Linked DNA regions of Homo sapiens: region 2 is linked to region 1. Evidence: fine-mapped expression QTL. A gene starts in region 1. The other region holds a variant in brackets. All regions are shown on one strand. Distances are from middle to middle.

Evidence for each region.
Region 2: its variant is fine-mapped to the expression of IFIT3 in whole blood (INTERVAL, PIP 0.97).

The regions. Positions count from the first base shown.
Region 1 is chr10:89,326,704-89,329,624 of GRCh38, reverse strand. IFIT3 (interferon induced protein with tetratricopeptide repeats 3) reads right to left here and starts at 1,628. Exons shown (of 2, transcript NM_001549.6): 1 at 1,547-1,628. The coding sequence starts at 1,551. It also overlaps a transcript of LIPA not described here. RefSeq lists a silencer at 1,251-1,300 and an enhancer at 1,621-1,860.
Region 2 is chr10:89,373,046-89,375,966 of GRCh38, reverse strand. It overlaps a transcript of LIPA not described here. Among named protein-coding and RNA genes, the nearest start is that of IFIT1B, 3.6 kb to the left of the region's middle. The variant T/AGT (reference allele first, on the strand shown) is at 1,624.

The DNA of each region.
Region 1 (2,921 bases):
CAGCTGGCACGTGCCAGTGAGTTCTCCAGGTGATTTTCCCATTTGGAAATTTTTAGCACAACTGGGGAGGAGCAGCCCAATCTCTTCCTGTTCCTATAGCCTCTGGAAATAGGAGCACCTTGATGTGAACCTGAGTCCAGCATAGTTCAGAGAGCCCCCCTCAGACCTCCTCAGGTCAGTGGCTATAGACACACCTAAAGACAGGACCCTGTAAAACCTTTCCTGCAAGCTGGCTACTAAGACGCCTTGCTCTCTGGTCAATCCCACTCACACAGACACAATTAACATCACTCTTGACCAGGAACTTATTCTATATAAAAGGGTATTCTATATACTGAGGTATTTGGCAGTGAATTCCTCTTACCCATCTCATCCCCAAACATGACATTGCAGAGCATCTTCAAGTCCTTGGGGCAGAGTAAGGTAGGGAATCCAGTTTTCCTTTTCTGCCCCCCTGAATGGTCGATGGGGTCTTCCCTCCCTGGCAATCACCTCCTCACTCCTTTCCTAGAGATGCTTGGTGGGAAAGGCATCCTTTTCTCTTAGTTCTCCCTAACATGCTATCCCCTGAAGAACTCCAGGAGGTCAATATATAAATTTAAAAATCAAGTTTACTGAGATTATGCTTTATATACAATAAGATGCACCCATTTTCAGTGTATAGTCTGATGAGTTTTGGTAAATGTTTATGCATATGTAGCCACCATCACTACCTCCCTATAGACTATTCCTATGATTCTAAAAAGATTCTTTTGGGAGCCTTCCTACTCAATCCCCACCATCTCCAGGCAACCACTGATCTGCTTCCCACCATTAGAGATTAGACTAGTTTTAGATAATAGATTAGGTCATTACACTTTTGAGGAGAAATTCTTTTTTTGCTGCTGACCAGCATTCACTACATCAATAAAAATAAATGCTAAGCTTTGGGTTTGTTTTTATATAAGAAATGACAAAAATGCCCATTTGTAAGAATTGTTTCTTCCACTTCCCACCTTAAAGTAATGCAACGTTTCAGGGCAAAATTGCCTTCTTCATGAGTGGGTTTGCAGTACTGATTGTATCTTTCACAATATCTGTTGAAAATAAATTCCTCCTTTTAAAATTACAAGAAAAAAAGCCTGTGACTTAATCTTTTCAAACAAAATGACAATAACAGAAAAACCCAAAAGAGTAATTCCCTTAGGTCTACCCTTGAATCAGCCAAGTTTGTGGCTGAGTGAAATACACCGCTCCTGCCAAGCCTTCCTCTCATTGCAGGAAATAGCTGCACACAGGGAGGAAACATGAGCTGATGCATTCCCCACCCTGCCTCCCCCCATGTAGTTCCGTAGGGAACCATTCCAGAAACTTAAGAAGCCTGTGTGTACACCAAAAAAAGCCACAGGGAAAAACCCCTCAAACATCTTACAAATGCTCAGACTGATAAAGACATATTGAATCTATAAACATCAGGACAATTCAGGAATGTGCCTGCACAGTAAGAAACTCAACTTACAATTTGCACTCAAAAACAAGCATGATTATGCATTCTTATTTCACTGACCTCATGACTGCCCTCTGTGTCTCTGCTGTTCCGAAAAGCTGGTGACCAGGCTGATTTGTTCTTCAGAAGTCTTCCTGTCTGCCTCAAGTAAATACTGAAGGAACTATATAAAGGGGTGGGAGAGTAGGGCACGCATCAGCTGATGTTTTCTCCGTTTTTGAGTAATTGCTTTTAGGGGAAGGAAGAGGAAACTGGAAAGTGAAACTAATTTAAAATCGTTGGGAGGAGGAAAATGAAACCTAACGGCTTGAGACCTGCAATGGCTGAGCCAGAGTACGTTATTCAAAACTGTGACTAAAATTTGTTTGAGAGAATGTGGAAGCATTCCTAATGTAAACCAAAAAATTAAATTCTAAGGCCATACTCACCAACCATGTGACTGGACCCCTGCTTTTGGCCAAGGGCATTCCAAAGTTAACCTGAAAACTGATGTGAAGGGGAAGCTGGATATGCCTCATTACATCCTTTTTCCTTTTGGAATTACTAATAGAACACACTCTTTTTTTGTTTTTGTTTTTGTTTTTTTTTGAGACAGAGTCTTACTCTGTTGCCCAGGCTGGAATGCAGTGGCATGATTGCGTCTCACTGCAACCTCTGCCTCCTGGGTTCAAGTGATTCTCTTGCCTCAGCCTCCCGAGTAGCTGGGATTACAGGCACCCACCACCATGCCCGGCTAATATTTGTATTTTTAGTAGAGACGAGGTTTCGCCATGTTGGTCAGGCTGGTCTTGAACTCCTGATAGCAGGTGATCCAACCACCTTGGCCTCCCAAAGTGCTGGGATTACAGGCATGAGCCACTGCACCCAGCCAGAACATGCTCTTTTTAAGTGTATTAAGAAACATTTACAACCTATTCTCTCTGAAGCCTGCTACTTGGAGGCTTCATCTGCATAATAAAACCTTGGTCTCCACGACCCAGACATTCCTTTCTAATGATTGTCTATTGAATTTCTATTGGATGTCTCCAAACATTCCTTTCTATTGATAATAACTCTTTCAACAAATTGTCAATCAGAAAATCTTTGAATCTGCCTATGACTTGGAAGCTGCCCCGCTTCCCTGTTTCCAATTGTCCCACCTTTCTGGACCTAGCCAATGTACACCTTACATGTATTGATTGATGCCTTATGTCTCCCTAAAATGTATAAAACCAAGTTGTGGCCTGGCACATGTTCTCAGGATCTCCTGAGGGCTGTGTCACAGGCCATAGGTCATTCATATTTGGCTTAGAATAAATCTCTTCAAATGTTTTACAGAGTTTGACTTTTTTTGTCAACATTAGGTATCTGACCATCAGTCTAGGGTGGGGCCCAGGAAACAGCATTTTTTAAGCCAATTCTTATTATTTTTAAAAATTTTTTGTGGACACATAGT
Region 2 (2,921 bases), 46 kb before region 1:
GATGCACCTGTGTTGGCCTCCTAAAGTGTGGGATTACAGGTGTGAGCCACTGCACCTGGCCCGTCTTGACATCTTACAAGCACAGGATATCATTTAGATCCATGTATTCTTCCATAAACCCACCAAATCTCAACATTACTTAAGTAATGAGAATCCCCATTTTATTCCTTGAGTATACTCTAATAATAAAAGTAGGCAGAAAAATTCTCTAAGCATAATGACAGCACAGAAATGGAGGTTAGAACCATTCAGGGGAATGAGGGAAAGGAAACTAGGCCCACGTAGCCCTGCTGTGGAAGACCAAGTTTGCTGAAAGGGAAGAATGATTGTTAGTCAAACATTGTTCCATCTGGGGTTGAGCAAACCAAGGCCATTAGAAAAAACCTTCTACACCTGTCAGGTGACAGAATCACCTGATGGAGGGGGTTCTGCACAGATATTTGCCATCTTGTTTATTTTGGGGTTGTGTACTCTGAGTATAAGACAATAGCACCCCATCATAGAACAACCATTATTCTATATTTGGGGCCAATGGGATGTTTTCTTCTGAGGTTTCCTTTCTTGCTCTGCAGCTTGGGCATAATGAGAACTATTAAAACCCTTTACCTTTACTTGTCTTTGTGCGCACAAGATGATGTTGCTCAGTAGTGAAGGCCACCTGGAATCAGACTACCTGGGGTCATTAATGGACTTTGCTGCTTACTGGACATGTGATCTTGGGATAGTTGGTTCACATTTCTAAGCCACATTTACTTACCCATGGAATCGGAATAGCACTAGGACTTTCGTCATGGGGTTATGTTGAGATGAAGTGGGATATTGCATGGAAAGCATGTCTCATTTAACAGCATTCAGTAATTGTGAGTGTTGCTTTCACAGTGTGGGACAAGTCCCCTTATCTGTGCAGTCTGTGCTGACCATTAGCTGGAGCCCTTCCAGACTACAATTTTTCCCAGTGGGCACTGAGAGAGAGGTGTTTCATGTCATATCTGACTGTGCAGCTGCTGAGATAGGGGTGTCCTGTTCTGAGCTTCAGGCCAGGGCAATCTACATATTCCCATCTCAGGCTCAGGTCAGGGAGCCCTGGCCATATCTACACATAGAGCCCAGCAGTACCTCTTGGGCAGCAGGCATTCAACCTCTCCCTAGTGAGGATGGACCTGTGTAGGGGGAGAAGAGATTTTGGAATGGGACTCATTTCCTCTCAGCTCTCTCTCTCCAGTTCTGTATCAGATGGGAAGCTTCTAGGAGGCCAATTGTGTTTTCAGATACAAATATCTTCTGTAAGGCACTAGCCCTGAATCAACTCTAAAAGGGATAGAAACATAAGCAAATACTGAAATGAACATTAGGAGAGCTGCTTACACTGAGAGTAGTATGACTTTGGAATTTTCATGCATAAAATTATTGCTAGTAACAGCGTGTCAGAGAAACAGAGTGAGTGTTTGTCATGTGGTCACTGAATTTGGCAGCAGTCCTGGTTCTGTGAGGCTCTGGCTCAACTGATTAGGTATTCAGGATCTGGCCCAGTGTGTCCTTGGATAAATACAGCCATGAACCACACAGGACAGAGCAACAATAAGGAAACAGCCAACACATTGTGTAAGAGAGAGAGAGAGAGAG[T/AGT]GTGTGTGTGTCTGTGTCTACAAATAGGAAAAAAACAATGGAAACTAGAGAGGGAAACTCATTTCTAATGGGCAGGATGCCTACTTGTAGAAATGAAACTTAAGCATTGGAGAAATAAAACTTAACCACTATCAACATTCCAGAACCAGCTCTGTGTTCGACGAACTAGCAGAGTGAACTTGATTTCACTTAAACACTGAGTTTCCTCATCAGGTATAGAAAAAGGTTGGCCTTGAACAGTGGTTTACAACCTTGGGCTGCAAGGTTGTAAAATTCCTTGGAAGTCTTTTAAAAATGCAGATGCCTGAGCCAATCTCCAGCCCAATCAATCAGAATCTCTGGAAGTGAAGCCCAGGCATGAGTATTATCAGTAAGTTTTCTGAAAAAAGTAATCCCAAAGTGATTTTTTTGTGCATGGTTTAAAACCACTAGACTAGATTTTTGCTACTCAGGATATGGTCTGTTACAGTGGCATCCTCAACTACTAAAAGCCCAGAAATGCAGAATATCAGGCCCCTCTACAGATCTCCTGAATGAGAACTTGCCTTTTAACATGTCCAGATGATTTGTTGGTACATTAAAGTTTCACAGATACTTTTCCAAATGATCCCTGGATCCCTTTCAGGTCCAAATGCTTTGGATCAGAGACTAATTCCTAATAAATACCTATTTTCTATGAGGCTCTGAGTCTAGAACTTTATTTTTCTATGCTTTGGTTTCCCCTTGTGCACCTTAATAATCCATGCAATACCAGAAAGGATGTAGGTCAAAGTGCACTGACCTCTACAGAGAGTGTCTGATGTTTGCTTTTGAGACTACTCATGTTTGCAAACTTGCACCAATCATGTCCACAGAGAAAATACTCAGCTACTAGGAACTTCTCTGCTCTGAAAGTCCTGGTAATCTTCATACCACCTCAGGGGTCTTGATGGCTATCTTTGGGCTACTCTGATTTACTTTTCTGGCTGACTCCCACGTGTTCCAGTTTTTTTTTTTTTTTTTTTTTTTTGAGAGGGAGTCTCGCTCTGTCGCCCAGGCTGGAGTGCAGTGGTGCAATCTTGGCTCACTGTAAGCTCTGCCTCCCGGGTTCACGCCATTCTCCTGCCTCAGCCTCCCGAGTAGCTGGGATTACAGGCACCCACCACCACGCCCGGCAAATGTTTTTTGTATTTTTAGTAGAGACGGGGTTTCACTGTGTTAGCCAGGATGGTCTCGATCTCCTGACCTCATGATCCGCCCGCCTCTGCCTCCCAAAGTGCTGGGATTACAGGCGTGAGCCACCGCGTCCGGCCCCACGT